Regions from separate parts of the Homo sapiens genome. Here region 1 is linked to region 2. Evidence: fine-mapped expression QTL. A gene starts in region 2. The other region holds a variant in brackets. All regions are shown on one strand. Distances are between the middles of the regions. Region 1 holds the start of RAB5C (RAB5C, member RAS oncogene family). Region 2 holds the start of AOC3 (amine oxidase copper containing 3).

Evidence for each region. PIP is the estimated chance that this variant, and not a neighbour inherited with it, causes the effect.
Region 1: its variant is fine-mapped to the expression of AOC3 in tibial nerve (GTEx, PIP 0.97).

Annotation. Positions count from the first base shown.
Region 1 is chr17:42,148,523-42,156,847 of GRCh38, reverse strand. It overlaps RAB5C (RAB5C, member RAS oncogene family), which reads left to right and starts at 1,859. Exons shown (of 6, transcript NM_004583.4): 1 at 1,859-1,955. RAB5C-AS1 (RAB5C antisense RNA 1) reads right to left here and starts at 2,448. Exons shown (of 3, transcript NR_187282.1): 1 at 2,139-2,448; 2 at 1,740-1,849; 3 at 1-1,080. RefSeq lists enhancers at 1,591-1,700, 1,583-1,877, 1,787-2,407. The variant C/T (reference allele first, on the strand shown) is at 4,357.
Region 2 is chr17:42,847,470-42,855,794 of GRCh38, reverse strand. AOC3 (amine oxidase copper containing 3) reads right to left here and starts at 4,596. Exons shown (of 4, transcript NM_003734.4): 1 at 2,852-4,596; 2 at 1,062-1,347; 3 at 222-351. The coding sequence starts at 4,451. It overlaps AOC2 (amine oxidase copper containing 2), which reads right to left. Exons shown (of 4, transcript NM_009590.4): 2 at 6,424-6,709; 3 at 6,065-6,194; 4 at 5,088-5,713. The coding sequence ends at 5,447.

The sequences.
Region 1 (8,325 bases), 700 kb after region 2:
AGGGCTTTGGAGGAGCCAACACAGCAATCACTCCCCACCCTCACCTTCGTTGTACCCCAGGGCCCAGTTGCTATCTCTAGGAAGGGCAGAGGCACCAGCCAATCTACTTGGCACCACATTCACACCACCAGGGGCCCCAGGGTTGAGGAAGAAACTTAATTAGTCACTATGGGCCTATTATACCCCCTTCTCTCCCCTGCACCCCAGTCACAGCCATGTATGCACACAGTATGTGGGAAGGACAGAGTCCTGGCTTTGGCCCACCTCCAGCCTTGGAAAGGTGGGCCTAGGGGACTACCCATCCCTCCTGTATAAGGAACTGTTCCAGAACTGGGTATGGCAAGGGGGCTGGGGGAAGAGCTTGTCACCAGCCAGAACCTGCTAGGAATCCCACTCTGCCCCATCCCCTCTGTCCTCCCAACAAGCCCTCTCTTCCCTCTTCCTTTTCACTTCTCATGAACACTGGCGCGGAAGTGGGGATTGTGTGTTATGGGTGTAAGAAAGAGAGACGCCCTGATGACCAGATGGAACTAGATGTGGGCACAGTTTTGTGGCAGGTTGTCCAAGACAGGTAAATTCTCCAGCTGAGGCTCCAGGATATGCCTGGTGTTGGCGTTATAGGCACAATGGCCACAGCTGTCTCCGGTGAGCTTTGATTCCACACAGGTTTTCAGTAGTGTCCCTTGAGGATGAGATGCAAAAGAAGAGGAGGTACTGGTTTGTGTTGAGAGGTAAGGGTGGGAGGAATCAGGAGCGGGCCCAGTCCATATTGAGAGGAGCAGAAAAAACAAATATTCCTGATCCATAGAGGGGGAGAGTGCAGAGTGGGGGTGGTTCTAGTCTTTATTTACGGATGGAGAGGGCCGAGGCAGAGGTTGTCCAGCTCTGTATTCCGCGTCAGAGAGAAGAGCTGACCCTGGCTAGGAGCAGGGGAAGGCAGAGGCAGAGATGGTCTTTGTGCCGGCCCCCGCACACACCAAGTAGGAGGTGGTGGCAGAAGCTCTCCCTTTGATCTCACCCAGCATCCTGCAGAGAACTCTTCCTGCAGCGCTTTCCTCACCTTCCCAATCACAGACGCCCCTGGCAATCGGGCGGACAGTGCAGACAAGGGCTTCTCCAGATCAGCGAGTTCACAGGACTGAGGCCTCGCGTGCATATTCATTCGCACCACGTTTTTTCTTTCCCAATTCTGCACACACAATCCTCTGCCTTCTTCCAACGCTCCACCACCCGCCTTCCCTCGGGGCGTCCGGAACCGGCGGTGACGCGGATGGCAGGGTTAGCCTTAAAAAGTTCCCGGCCGTAGGCTGGGCGCGGTGGCTCAGGCCTGTAATCTCAGCACTTTGAGAGGCCGAAGAGGGCGGATCACCTGAGGTCAGGAGTTCGAGACCAGCCTGGCCAACATGGCGAAACCCCCGTCTCTACTAAAAAATACAAAAATTAGTCGGGCGTGGTGGTGCGTGCCTATAATCCAGCTCCTCGGGAGGCTGAGGCAGGAGAATCGCTTGAACCCGGGAGGCAGAGGTTGCAGTGAGATCGCACCACTGCACTCCAGCCTGGGCGACAGAGTAAGACTCCGTCTCAAAAAAAAAAAAAAAGTTCCGGCCGGGCTCCGCCTCGCAGTCAGCCGGCTCCACCCTAAGCCCAAGTCCCAGGCAGCCACTGACTCCTCCCAGCGCTGCGAACTACAAGTCCCGCGATCCCTCGCGCGCTCCCTACCGCCACTCCCGCGTTCCTACCGGCGCCGCTGGGTAGGTCGGCCAAGAGTGCCTCCCATTGGTCTCCGCACTGTCAATCACCTGGGAGTATTGAGGGGCGGGGCGGAGGTGGAGATCCGGATCCGGAGCGGCTGAAAGGCGGAAGTGGAGGCCGGAGCCTGGGACACCGCCGGCGGGGAGAGAAGCGGATCCCGTCCGAGCCCCGGCCCCAAGTAACGCCGCCGCCCCGGAGCCGCCGTGAGTATGCTTGTCCCAGGACCTGGTGTCTCGCCTGCGTTGAAGCATCTCCAGGGCAGCCCTTCCTCCCGCCCAGCCCCAGTTTAGGGGGATACTGACCCCTCCCCCGACCCGTAGCCCCCTCTTGAGGGGCTCCCCAGGCGTCGGGCCATAGGAGGTGGGGAGCTTCTTTCCTTAGCTTACCTGCCTTTGGTGAGCCTTAAGGAAACCGCTATGACTGTCCTCTGGCCTGTCCATTCTAGTTGTGGGAGAGAGGTACCCTAAGTTCCGCTCCCCCTGCTTCCAGAATCGGAGGATCTTTGCTAGGTGTGAAGGAACCTGTCCCTCTTCTCTTTTAGAAGTGACAGGGAGTGCTGTCTGTCGCCGTTTTCCTTCCTCCTGTCCCACAAAACCAGTTGTCCCCTCTAGCCCTAGAGGAATATCTCGATTTCCTTTGGGGGAGGGGGGTCGTCTGGGTGAGACCGTTCCACACGCACAGAAGTGTGTGTGCGCTCCCGCAACTCCTTACTTCCTCTCTTTCCTCAAGCCAGAGAACCAACCAGGACCTCAGCTGAGTTTAAAGTCACTTACTAGAAATGAGCTGTTTTCCTGTTTTGCCCCTTCTGTCTCCCAGCCCTGTCCTCTAGTTATGTTGTTCTTTGAGTGTCTCTCTCTTTCTGCCTCTGAAGAATTTAGCTGAGGTTTGCTCAATCCTAGCTACAGATCACAGATCAGGGTGGATGTGCCCATTCATTATCTTCTTTCCCCTCCCCCCTTGCTCCAGGCTCAGCTCTGTCCTCCCAGAGCACGTGAGTGGTTTCCCAGCCGCCTCAAAGGGACTGCTTTTCTTGGGACTGCTGTCCGTGTGTCTATAGGGAGGAGAATAAGACCCAAAATGAGGAGTCTGGAATTGAAGGGCCATCTCTTTCCCACTCCCAAACACACACACATACACCTCCCTGAGCAACAGGTCCACACCACGCCAGGGTCTGTCTGCAATCCCTTCAGGGCTTGGACTTATTACTGAGGACTAAGTCAAGATCACAATGGCAGTTCTGGATTTTTAATTGTAGCCTGAGGAATTCCGATACATGCCAGAAAGTGCAGGTTCCCTCAACCATATTGACTGATCCTTGTCTGTTGCTTGGGGCTTAGGTGTGTGAAATAGCTGCTGTCTCAGACCAAGCTTTGTTATGTGGCCAAAGTACAGGCCGGAGACTGTACCTTAACGAGGAGTAGCCTGGCTCTGAGGCCATGACTGACCCTTGCTATCTACAGTGGAGGAAGGGACGGAAAGCCGTGCAGTTTGTGGGAACTTCTGTAGCTCTTCAGTGTTCTGGGCTACCTTTACCACCCTCGCTTGCCACTTAAAAGTGCTGTGTTTTTTGGCCTTGAGGTGTGTTTGAGGGCTTCTGGACAGTGGCTAGTATCTGATTCCTACAGTCTTTTGAGTAGAGCTAGGATGTACTTTCTTCACTTTTTTGTTTGTTTGTTTTTGAGATGGAGTCTTGCTCTGTCGCCCAGGCTGGAGTGCAGTGGCGTGATCTTGGCTCACTGCAACCTCTGCCTCCTGGGTTCAAGCAGTTCTCTTGCCTCAGCCTCCTGAGTAGCTGGGATTAACAGGCGCCTGCCACCACACCCGGCTAATTTTTGTATTTTTAGTAGAGATGGGGTTTCGCCATGTTGGCCGGGCTGGTCTCGAACTCCTGACTTCAGGTGATCCACCCGCCTCAGCCTCCCAAAGTGCTGAGATTACAGGTGTGAACCACCGTGCCCGGCCTACTTATTTCACTTTTTATCGGACAACAGAAGAAGCCTTCCTTATTAGGGTCAACAGCTGGATCACAGGCTCTGTATCTGTGTGGGTTCCTTTGGGGTTCATTGGAGACTTCTTCAACCAACCTAGTTTCTCTGATCTGGTCAGCCTGGGCATCTGAGGGGCAGGGCCAGAGAGGCCTGACTGCTCACTGGCCATTGGTCTCTGACCAGACTTAGGTCTTCAGGAGTAGACCGCAGTTTGTCACTCTTCAGGAGTGCTGGGATGAGGCCGACCAGCCTTCTGAGGAGACCTTCTTTTCTTTGTCTGGACATGCTCTCCCAGCTCTGACTCTGAAACGACTTTTTTTTTTTTTTTGGAGACAGAGCCTTGTTTTGTCACCCAGGCTGGAGTGCAGTGGCACAATCTTGGCTCACTGCAGCCTCTGCCTCCCGAGATCAAGGGATTCTCCTGCCTCAGCCTCCTGAGTAGCTGAGATTACAGCCATGCACCACCACGCCCAGCTAATTTTTGTATTTTTAGTAGAGATGGGGTCTCACCATGTTGGCCAGGCTGGTCTCGAACTCCTGACCTCAGATGATCCACCCACCTCAGCCTCCCAAAGTGCTAGGATTACAGGCATGAGCCACTGCACCCAACCTGAAA[C/T]GACTTTGAAGGGGAAGCTCTGCCATTTAGAGAGACGAGGCAGGCCCCAGTGCTTTGGGTCGTTATGCAGCCACTTCTGGCACCTAGAAATTATAGAGTCCAAGCAGAGGTCTGACTCTGCCTGGCAGAGAGAGCGATGGCTCCGTGTGCGACAGAACCCCTCCTTTCTGATGCTGTTCCTCCCCTGCCCTCTTGCCTCTCACAATTAGAGGGCTGTTAAACTGTAGAGGGACAGTAACACTAATTTTTAAAAATCATTTTAAGGTTGCAAAATTATTTTCATACATATTCCTCATAGGTGCCTTGGGAAATAGTGGGGCTTGTTTCCCCACTTTGTTTTTAATTTTTATTATTACTTTTTTTTTTTTGAGTAAGATAAGGCAAGTGTCCCTGCTTTAGAAGGGATGCAGAAGGAACTTAAGTAGTTTGCCTAAGATCGATCATACATTTAGAAAGTAGTAGAGCTGGGGCTTGGATTTGGGGTCAGATGTGACCTGATCTAACAGTGGGCCCTTCTTCGGCCTGGTTTGTTCGTTAAATGAATGAACATGCAGACTGAGTGCGCCACGGCACAAGGGCAGACTCTTAACTCTTTAGCCCTCCTCATCACTAGCGCTCCTCTGTTTTTTTGTCTTCCCCAGCGTCTACCCGACCTCCTGTCTTCTCTCTTGACCCCTTTCACCTCTGCCTCTGAGGACCAAAACAGTTAGGAGTCCCAAGTCAGTACTCTTCAGGGCCTGAGAGTTTGCTGACATCTACATGTCATTAATTTTTCTGGGAACCTGAAAGTCCTAATGGCTAGAAAATGAAAGTTAAAGTGAGTAAACTCAGGGGTCCCACTGGGCAGGGTTAAGGGGGAAGCAACAGAGCGGGCCTCTGGTTAGTCCTCTGTTTCTCCTGTGGTGCTGCCTGCTGCTTGCAAGTGGGAAGAATGTGGCTTGCCACCAGGAGCTCCTGTCACTAGAATTTACATGGAAACAGAGCAAGATCATACATTTAAATTCAGCCCCACCAAGCAAGTACTTCTTAGACCTTCTACTTCTTTTTTTTTTTTTGAGTCGGAGTCTCGCTCTGTCGCCTAGGCTGGAGTGCAGTGGTGCGATCTTGGCTCACTGCAAGCTCCGCCTCCCGGGTTCATGCCATTCTCCTACCTCAGCCTCCAGAGTAGTTGGGACTACAGGTGCCCACCACCACGTCCGGCTAATTGTTTTGTATTTTTAGTAGAGATGGGGTTCCGCCGTGTTAGCCAGGATGGTCTCGATCTCCTGACCTCGTGATCCGCCCACCCTGGCCTCCCAAAGTGCTGGGATTACAGGCGTGAGCCACTGCGCCTGGCCAGACCTTCTACTTCTAACCCTTGCCCAGTAAACAGGCAGTGTGGTCGGGTGGAAGGCACTAGAACTTCAGAGGCAGTTGGACCTGAGTTCTCATCCTGATTCCCCCACTTACCAGTTGTGTGACCCTGGGCTTGTTACTTGACCTCACTGAGCCTGTGTTTCTTCTGGTAAAATGGGGATGCTAAATACCTTGCAGAATTAGAAACAAAGAAAGGAGCTAGTCCAGTGCTGGCAGACTGGATGCCCACAAAATAGCAGTTGCCTCTGATGGGTAGGTAGGGGTTTGAAGGTTCTTTTTTTTTTTGAGGCAGTCTCATTCTCATTCTGTTGCCCAGGCTCACTGCAACCTCCGCCTCCTGTGTTCAAGCGATTCTCCTGCCTCAGCCTCCTGAGTAGCTGGGATTACAGGCACCTGCCATCATGCCCGGCTAATTTTTTTTTTTGGTATTTTTGTAGAGATGGGGTTTGACCATGTTGGCCAGGCTGGTCTCAAACTCCTGACCTCAGGTGAGGTGATCTGCCCGCCTCATCGGCCTCCCAGAGTGCTGGGATTACAAGCATGAGCCACCGTGTCTGGCTGATTTTTTTTTTTTTTTTTTTTTTTTTTTTTGAGATGGAGTTTCACTCTTGTCTCCCAGGCTGGAGTGCAATGGCGTGATCTTGGCTCACTGCAACCTCTGTCTCCCGGGCTCAAGCTATTCTCCTGCCTCAGCCTCCTGAGTAGCTGGGATTATAGGCGTGTGCCACCATGCCCAGCTAATTTTTGTACTTTTAGTAGAGACAGGGTTCCTCTATGTTGGCCAGGCTGGTCTCGATCTCCTGACCTCAGGTAATTGTGCCCAGCCTCAACACTGATTCTGATTCAACATGTGTACCAAATGTATGCTGGGGCTGGGCACAGTGGCTCATGCCTATAATCCTAGCACTTTGGGAGGATCGCTTGATCCCAGGAGTTCAAGACCAGCTTGGGGGCCAGGTGTGGTGGATCACGCCTATAATCCTAGCACTTTGGAAGGCTGAGGCTGGGAGATCACCTGAAGTCAGGAGTTCGAGACCAGCCTGGCCAACATGGTGAAACCCCATCTCTACTAAAAATACCAAAATTAGTCAGGCGTGGTGGCACATGCCTGTAATCCCAGCTACTTGGGAGGCTTAGGCAGGAACCTGGGAGGCAGTTCAACCTGGGAGGTGGACGTTGCAGTGAGCCGAGATTGCACCACTGCACTCCAGCCTGGGCAACAGACCAAGAGTCTATCTCAAAAAAAAAAAAAAAAAAAACCAGCCTGGGCAACATAATGAGACCCCATGTCTAAAACAAAAACAAAATGTCTGCTGGGATGCCTTGTACATTGCTTGATGGTTTCACAAATTGTCTCATTTTGTAGACATTGAACAGAATTGATGTGGGTTGTATTCCCATTTTACAGAAGAGAACGCTGTGCCACTTCAGTTTTACTTAGTTGTAAGCGTTTTAATATTAAAACAGTCCTGTAACTATTATAGATTAGAATGCAAAGTTTGCATGAATTGAAGCTAACACAGGAAACTTTAATTAATTAATTAATTTATTTATTTTTGAGACAGGGCCTCTCTCACCCAGGCTGGAGTGCAGTGGGACGATCATGGCTTACTTCCGCCTTGATCTTGTGGACCCAAGTGATCCTCCCACCTCAGCCTCCTGAGTAGCTGGGACTGTAGGCATGTACCACCATGCCCGGCTAGTTTTTGTATTTTTAGTAGAGACAGGGTTTTGCCATGTTGCCCAGGCTGGTCTCAGAACTCCTGGGCTCAAGTGATCCTCCTACTTTGGCCTCCCGAAGTGCTGGGATTACAGGCATGAGCCGCTGCACCTGGCCAAAGACAGTATTTTGCTTGTAGCCAGCTGCTTTGGGTTCAACTCCCAGATTTCTGGGAGTTTCCTCTCCCCTGACTTGAGTGAAGGGTACATATGTTGGGGCTGTTTGAGAAGCACTGCTTTAGGTAGAATTTATAAACTAGGATGTGCCAAAATCCAGGTAATCATGCTTGCAAAAACCTTGGCAGAGGAGAATCGGAATATTTTTGGCATCCTCTGCATTAATAGCTTGGTATTGTAAGAGATTACTTTTCCAATTAAATAGCCCCATCCTCTATGTATAAGAACAGTAATACAAATAAAAGCTAAACTTCTATTTTTGCCATGTGCCAGGCACTCTTGTGAGCCCTATGTGTTGACTCCTTTAATCCTCCGACAACCCCAGGAGGTAGGTTCTGTGTTTAATCCCCATGTTAGAGTGGGGGACTATGTAGTAATGGCAGAGATGGGGTGTGCTCTTATCGCTATTCAATACAGCCTCTCCTTGACCCATCTCTGGGCTAAATGCCTACTGTTCACTTTGCCTAGAAGGCTCTTCTGCACCTCACGTGCCTGGAAACTGTATCTCCCTACTTTTCTCTCAAAGCTCAGTTTGAATGCCACTTCCTCTGTGAAGCCTTCCCTTGCCCCAAATGGGCTGAGGGCTTGTCTCCTACATGGGCTGTCTTCTCAACTGCTATCTCATTGTTCCTTATTTGCCTCATTCTCTGGTGGGTGAGCCCTTTAGGGGCACAGATCGGGTCCTGTTTGATCTTTGTGTGTTTAGGACCTGGCATG
Region 2 (8,325 bases):
ACTAAGAGGGCTCTAAGATCTCAAGGACAGGCCCAGGGCCTCACTCAGTGTCTGCATATGGACACCCAGCTCAGGAAGGTTCCCTCAAAGGATAATGATCAGATATACTGAAGTGCAGAAGGCAGGAATCAGCACCACCCCTGAGAAGTGCAGGTGGTTTTCAGGGACCCTCCCAAGAGAAAGCAAGGCTCATCCTGTACCCTCTACCCCGGCCAGCTGACCTTTCCAGCAATGGTCTCATTGTTGATGAAGTCACTGAAATCCACAGTGGGGGCCCAAGGGTCATTCTGATTGAAAACGCTGCTGCTACTGGGCTCCTCCTCCTTCCGCTGGGTCACAGCCAGCTGGTACCTAGGGAGGCACTGGTCAGGCCTCCATGGCCATTGACCCCATCCTGCTGCCTGATTATGATGAAAGGGAACTGAGTGCTCAGAGCTCAGCTTCCCCAATTGCAGTCACACAACTGACTCGGCGCTACAGAATCCCCGACGTCACCCTAAGGGGGGTCAAGTCCTCCTGTTTATCCCCAGCCATTTAACAGTACAACCCCTCTCCCATCCAAAACAGAAGAGAGTTCTCACTCCTGGGCTTTAGCCTCCAAGGGGAAAATGTGCCCATCATGGTTTCTTTGGATAACTAGAAAAACCTTTGGCCAGGCATTGTGGCTCATGCCTGTAATCACAGCACTTTGGGAGACCAAGGAGGGTGGATCATGAGGTCAGGAGTTCGAGACCAGCCTGGCCAACATGGTGAAACCCTATCTCTACTAAAAATACAAAAATTAGCCATGTGTGGTGGCGTGCACCTGTAATCCCAGCTACTGGGGAGGCTGAGGCAGGAGAATCGCTTGAAACTGGGAGGCGGAGGATGCAGTGAGATTGCTCCACTGCACTCCGGCCTGGGCAACAGAGCAAAACTCCATCTCAAAAAAAAAAAAAAAAAAGGAAAAGAAAAGCCTTCCTGAGAGAGCTCTCCCCTCACCTACAGTGTGAGCTGAGTGTCCGCCAACACTCCTTTCCCACTCTCACTGCCCCCCTCCTCTCTGACTGCCCGCCACTCACCTCTCCCAGCTGAAGCCTCTCGCCATGGAGCTGTTTTGGGGCAGCGGCTCTCCAGCAAAGCTGAGCATCTGGATGCGGTAGCCCCGGGGGTGACCCCACTTGTTGCTGTGGTTGCTGGCCAGGTACAGGTAGCGAGGGGTGGCGCTTCCCACGAGGAAGGCGGCCTGCTCCTCCATCTCCAGCAGCTTCCGGGTCACCTGCAGCCTCTGCAGCTGGTGCTCAGGGCTCCAGGGCACAGCCATGGGGACAAAGACCATATCCTCGGCCCAGACCCAGTTCTCCAGTCCTGCTCAGGGTGGGATAGGGGAGGGCCTGTCAGGCAACTGCCCTGGCCCCTCTGGACTCTGCCCCCATCTGGCTTCAGAGTGGGGGCCAAAGAGCAGCCCAGAACTGAGTGTGCCCCTCCTTCTCTTCCCTCTCCCCAGGATACCTCCAATCCTTTAGCCAAAGCTGTTGACCTGTAAATTAAAATACTTCATCAGGGAGTTCATTCCATTTCACTCATTCATTCTTTCAACATTCATTAGCAGAGAGGACTGTACTCGTCCCTGGGGATAGAGATGAATGATCATCCTTACCCTCTTGCTTTCCACGCAGACAGACAAACCACTGACTGGCCTGTCCTGTGAGAGGAGCATGGCCTAGGCAACTTCCGGATCACAGGAATACAGTTGCAGGCAGGAAAAGGGGGCCCTTCCGGGCAACTTTTCAGCCTGGCCTTAAAGGACATTACCAGAAAAGATGATATGGAAGGACATTCTAAGCAGAGACAAAGCATAAGCAAACAGGAGGATGCCTGACTGTAACATGTGAAGTGCGTGTCCAGGGACATGGAGAATTTGGGTGTAGCTGTGCAGAGCACAGCAAGGCAGGGTGGAGCTGCACCGTGAAGGAAAGAGTTTTGAGGGGGTTCTGCAGACAGGATCCCACAGGTGATGACGAAAGTGAGAGCTGAGTAAAGGGCAGGCTGGTGTGGATGGGAGGCCCTCTGGGTGCAGAGTGGCTCTTGGCTCTGAGAGCAACAAGAGCAAAAACAGCAGAGAGAGGGCTGGCACCTGCACGGCATGACAGTCTGACCTGCCGAGATACTGCAGGTGCAAAACAGAAACAAAACAAAATAAAACAAAACCAAAAAAAAACACCTGGTGACTGACTCAATGTGGGGAAAGACAGTGAAAAGACAAAGATGAAGACTCCAAGCCATCATGTAGCCTTGGCTCTCTCTGTGACCAGACTCCAGGATCTATCCAGAATGCTCCACGGGATCCATGTGACCCCTCACACTTAGGTGAATTGTGCCCAGAGAAAGAAGGAAAATCAGGGAGGAGGGTCCATCTCCAAAGGAAATGTACAACCTGGAATGACTGACCTGCACATGCCAGGGACGTGGTAGAATGCAAAGAGATCCTCCAAAACACCACCACCACAGGCCAGACACAGAACTGAGCTGACAAACAGAAGGCTGCTCCCAGCAGCAGAGCCCATATAAGTACAAGGGAGAGAAGAGGGCAATGGGGACACTGTTAGCCCAAATCCTGCCTCCTCCCTGAGCTCGGCCATTTCCCAAGATCTTTGGATGAGGTCACGTAGAGGAAGGCTGCAGCTTTGCACCCAGCCAGTGAGCTAAGATCCAAATAAAACTCAGCAGCCAACTCTCTCCCATCCAGCAAAAGGGGAAGTACAAAAATCCACGTCTTCCTTTCTGGGATAATCTACATAAAACCCAAAGCTAATGGAAACAACTTTTCAGCCCTTCTTCCAGAAGCCTTCTCCCCACCAAAATGTCTTACCTGCTACATCCAGATCCACCTTGAAGTGGGCGCTGTGGGTGTGGACCGTGCCCAGGGTGTGCTCTGACACTTGGTTCCCGTACTTCCCAGTAGCACCAAAGAGGAATGCCGAGCTGATGTAGCCCGTGGCATAGAATCGTATTTCTATGGCCCCACTGGGGTGGAAGACCGTATCCCACACATAGTCATAGTTGAGCAAGGTGGACATAGATCTGACGACCAGCACCGTTTCCGCAAGACCCCCAAAGTAGTGCGAGTAGAGATCTGAGTGGTGTCGCCGCAGGGGGAGGCCCTGGTTCTGTTCAAACACACAAAAGGCATCACGTATTGTCTTGGGGGCCTGGGACTCCAAAAGGAAGTGCCAGTCCACGTAGGTGGCCAAGTAGGGGCAGTCCACCCCACGGGTCAGGGGCGTGGTGTACTTGCCCATGCCAAAGCCTCCATCCACATAGCGGGTCGTCATTGCTGCTGGGGAATTTCCACCATAGATGGCCAAGGCCTCTTGGAGGCTTATCTCATAAACTAGTCTTTCTCCTTGGAAGCGAACGTCAAAGATCCTTGGGCCACTGAATGCTCCGAGGCCAAAGGAGAAAGTCCACAGTGAGGAGGCCACTCGACTTCCCTGGACACTGAAGCGGGGGCCTTGGGGATAGAACTGTAGAGGGGGAGCTGGACCCGGGGGCACAGGGGACTTCAGGGACCAGGACCCACCTGTGCCATTGTCTGGGATCAGCACCACATTCACCAGGCCGGCCTCAAACTGGGCCTCCAGCTGGGCCAGGCTGTCGTAGTAGCGGCCTTGATAGAACACCTTCTGGATAGTCCAGCGGGCAGGGTCAAGGGCCTTGTGGTTCACTAGCAGCTCCAAGCCCACGTGGTGCAGGAAGAACCCAGCGCCCGAGATGTTGTAGTAGAGGCCAAACCAGGTGGCCCGGTCCCCTGATTGCAGACCACGGGGAGCCGTGGTCATTGTCACCAGGTTCCGTCCCCGGTGCTTGTAGAAGCAACAGTGGTGGAGAAGCCCAGAAGCCTGGGGCAGCTCTCTGTTGAAGATCATCTGGTCTATGTCCAGGTACTCTTGGAACAGCACGGGGCGTCGGTGATAGGGCAGGGGGCCTCCATGACGCTCCACAGTCACGTCCCGCATGTAGGAGGGGTGAGGCAGTGGCCCCACCACCAGCTCACTCACGTTGGGCTGGGGTTGCCTGCCAAAGAAGACGATGGCCAGTGCCTCCCGGGCAGGTGGGGGGCTCCCCCTGTCCAAGTGAGCCAGGGCTGCAGCCTTGGGAGGCAGCTGCAACTCCACTGAGAAGACACAGTTGTCCGAGGGCCGGGCCTGGGCTGCATCCACCAGCCCTGGCCCCAGCCGCTGGGTCAGAAAGCGCATCACAGCCGTCAGCTCCTCTCGGCTCAGGTCTGCAAACAGCTGGCTCTGGCCAGGGTGTGTCCAAGGCTGGGCACTGGGAGATACAGAGGGGCAATGGGGAAGCTGGCTGGGTTCACCCCCATCTCCACCCCTGCCCACCAGCAGGACACAAACCAAGGCAAAGATGGTGATGACGGCCAGAATGAGGAGCACGAGGATTGTCTTCTGGTTCATTTTCCCACGAAGAGGGACAGCTGATTCAACCAAAGGAGAGCAATGTATTCTCACGCCAGCAAGACGGGGGCTCTGTTGGCTCCTGGACGGGGTGGGGGGCTCCCGGACTCTGGCTGAGGTTCCCGGTAGTCAGATGCCTGGGACTAAGGGTGGGAAGGACACAGGAAGGCTAGGGCAAGGGGGCGGGGTGGCCGGGGTTGGAGGCGGGTCTGAACAGCTGTGATTTCCACAGACCTTACATGGTTTTGTCTTCCAGCCTCCAAATCACTCTACTTTCTGGGTCAGGGTTGGAGTTGGGGAGAGTTGGGGCTAGGGGGAAGGGGAAGGAAAATTTCAAGATAATGCAGCACTGGGAAGGAGCAGGATCTGTGCAGAGCAGCCTCTCCTGACCTCAGCCCAGCTTCTTCCCCAGTCCCCCACTTAGTCAGGGCCAGATATTTTCCTGTAACTTCAAACTATCGTTTTCCTTCCAAAGACCCCCACCCCCTGCCCCTTTAGCTTTCCAAATGACATTCCTTGGCCAGGTCTATCCCCCTTGCCCTCTGGCCCCCAGCGCTAATTTCCCTGGCCAGACTCCTTAGTATTCTCCAGAGGACTCTAGATACTTAACAGGTCAAACAATAAATTCAAGTAAAATTCCTCTAATACTTTTTATTATAAATTACATACAACATCTGTTTTACAAAATTCTATCTACTCTTCCTTTTGAATGCACATGCATAAAGAGATGTCTGATGTAATGTGACCACCTATTTCTGAGTAGTAGGATTTGTGATATTTTTCTTTGAATATTTAAAAATCATTTTTATAATTTAACACTTTAGAGATGAACAGGAAGTAAGAATTAACCAAAGGGACTGATGGGGGTTTCGTGTGAGAGGAACATTGAGGGGGTGGGAATCTGGGGAGCAGGTGTGATAAAAACACGGAGAATAGAAAGTAGAAACAGGGAAAAGTACATGTGCCTAACCACGCCGCCCGCCACACCCTCAGGACTAGAAGCCGTGGTAAGAGAAAGGGGGTAAGTCCGGGACACAGGCTGCCAGGTCGGGGAGGCAGGCCACAGGATTGATGCTGCAGAGCCCAGCATCCTGGCCCTTCTCAAAGTAGACACTGCCAGGGGAGAAGATGGAGGGGTCCTCATCAAAGAAGTTATAGGGTCGGAGCAAGAAGCCAACTCTGTTCCCCAGAGTCACTGTGTTTGGGATGTCCTCGGCATGGGGAATGTGCAGGAAGCTGGCTGTGACCCAAGCCACCAGATCCTGCAAGAAGAAGGAGGAGCTGGAGGACTATGGAAGCGTGACCCAAAGAACCACCCTTCAGTCACAATCCCAGCCTCCAGTCTCAGCCTGGCTTCCACTCTCCCCAGCCTCATGCCCATACAACACGTGGAGCAATCCATGTAAGCAGCTGTGCGGGGAGAGGGGGGAGCCAGTGTCCCAGAGCTAATCTCACCCCAGGAGGGATGACCTGTGTTGGTCATCAGAAAACTCCATGGCCTCTGAATCTGCGAACTGGAAATCAGCCATTCCCTCTAACCTTTGGCCAGAGGCTGGGCAGCCAAGATGCCATGCCCACAGGTGTCCCTTTCCTATGTCCCTAGGGCAACCAACCTCTCCTAAGAGGGTTTCATTGTTGATGAAGTCAGCAAAGGTAACTGTGGGTGTCCAGATGTCATTCTGGTGATAGATGCTACTGCTCTGTGACTCCTCCTCCTTTCTCTGGGTCACCACAAGCTGGTATCTGGCCAGGAATCATAAGAAGGTGGTTTTGGGAAATGTCAAGTGCCTTTACTGGCCCAGGAGTCCCTTAGATCCGATTCTGTGTGAGACCATTTCCCACCGTGTATCTAACTTGGGTTTGAGGGGAGGTACAGGGATGAATGGTAGCCGTGGGAAGGGAGTTTGTCTCCAAGGACTGGGGCAGGGGAGGGGCTGTCCTTTCCTTCCACCCAGGCCAGGGCCCTCCTCACCTCCCCCAGCTGAGGGCCCTCTCCATGTCACTCTCCAGGGGTATGTGTATGCCAAGGGGGCTGTGGATCTGGATTCGGTACCCGCGCTGGTGACCCCACGCATTAGTCTGGTTGCTAGCCAGGTAGAGGTAGCGGGGTAGGGGGCTTCCCAAGGAAAAAGCTGTCAGGTCCTCCTTTCCCAGGACCTGCCGAGTCAGCTGTGGGCGCTGTAGCCAGTGCTCCGGGTTCCAGGGGGCAGCCACAGGTTTAAACACCACGTCTTCAGCTACCACCCAGTTTTTCAGCCCTGCCAGGGGGAGGGAAAGGAGATGAGTTCCACACCAGGTAAGGTCTCTGGGCCAGGTCCCTGTCTTCCCCATGATGTCCACTGCACTGGTGTGACAAAAGGCAGAGAGAGCATCAGAGCACACTGTGCTGGGAGCCAGGAGGTCTGGGCAAGAGCAAGCTCCTATCTTCTTCCAACTTGCCCTATCCGATAGGGTAACCACTAGCCACACGTGGCTATGAAAATTAAAACTTAGGGCCAGCTGAGGTGGCTCACACCTGCAATCCCAGCACTTTGGGAGGCTGAGGCGGGTGGATCATGTGAGCCCAGGAGTTTGAGACCAGCCTGTGCAACGTGGTGAAACCCTGACTCTACAAACAATAAAAAAATCAGCCAGGCATGGTGGTACATGCCTGTGGTCCCAGTTACTTGGGAAGCTGGGGTAGGAGGATTGCTTGAGCCCAGTAGGTTGTGGCTGCAATGAGCTGAGGTCACACCACTGCACTCTAGCCTGGGCAACAGAGCAAGACTCTGTCTAAAATATATATATATATATATATGTATATATATATATATATATATTCAGTTCCTCTGTCACACTAGCCACACTTGAAGTGCCCAGTTGCCACACATGGCTAGTGACTATTGTTTAGAGCCACAGCTCAAATACGGAATATTTCTATCACTACAGAAAGTTCTATTAGCACTGGACTACCAAACAGTCCCTGGACCAATTTGCTTCTCTGATTCACTTTCTGAATCCCTACACTGGGCATAATTAAAGCTGTTCTATGGCTGTGCCCAATAAACAGAAAAGCACTTGCAGCTGACTAGTGACATTCTTTTAACTATGAAAGGGATAATGATATTTGTCTTGGAGAAGCTAGCTGAAAAACTGACTCCTGAGCCGGGTGTGGCAGCTTGCAACTCAGGAGGCTGGTGGCAGGGTGATGCAGATCCCTTGAACCCAGGTGCTGGACACCAGCTGGGGTAACGGAATGAAACACTGCCTCTTAAAAAAAAAAAAAAAAAAAAAAAAAAGGCCGGGCATGGTAGCTCACAGCACTTTGGGAAGCCGAGGCGAGTGGATCACTTGAGACCGGGAGTTCAAGATGAGCCTGGCCAACATGGTGAAACCCCATCTCTACTTAAATAAATAAATAATTTAAAAAAATTAGCCAGGTGTGGTGGTGTGCTACTCTGGAGGCCGAGACACAAGAATCGCTTGAACCTGGGAGGTGGAGGTTGCGGTGAACTGAGATTGCACCACCGTGCTCCAGCCTGGGCAACAGAGTGAGACTCTGTCTTCAAAAAAAAAAAAAAAGCTGGGCGTGGTAGTGTATGCCTGTCATCCCAGCTACTAAGGAGGCTGAGGCAGGAGGATTGCTTGAGCCCAGGAGGTCAGGGCTGCAGTAACCTGTGATTGCACCGCTGCACTCCAGCCTGGGTGACAGTGAGACACTGCCTCAAAAAAAGAAAACCCAATCCCTTCCCATGGTCCCCTGCATACTCCTCCCAGCTCTGAGACTTCACTTTTGATCTCAGCAAGGTGGGAAGTACTGTCAGTGTTTTTCAGAAGCAAGCACATTCATACCTTTGTCTGGGAGTTCCTTGGAATTCTACAGCATCCATAACCT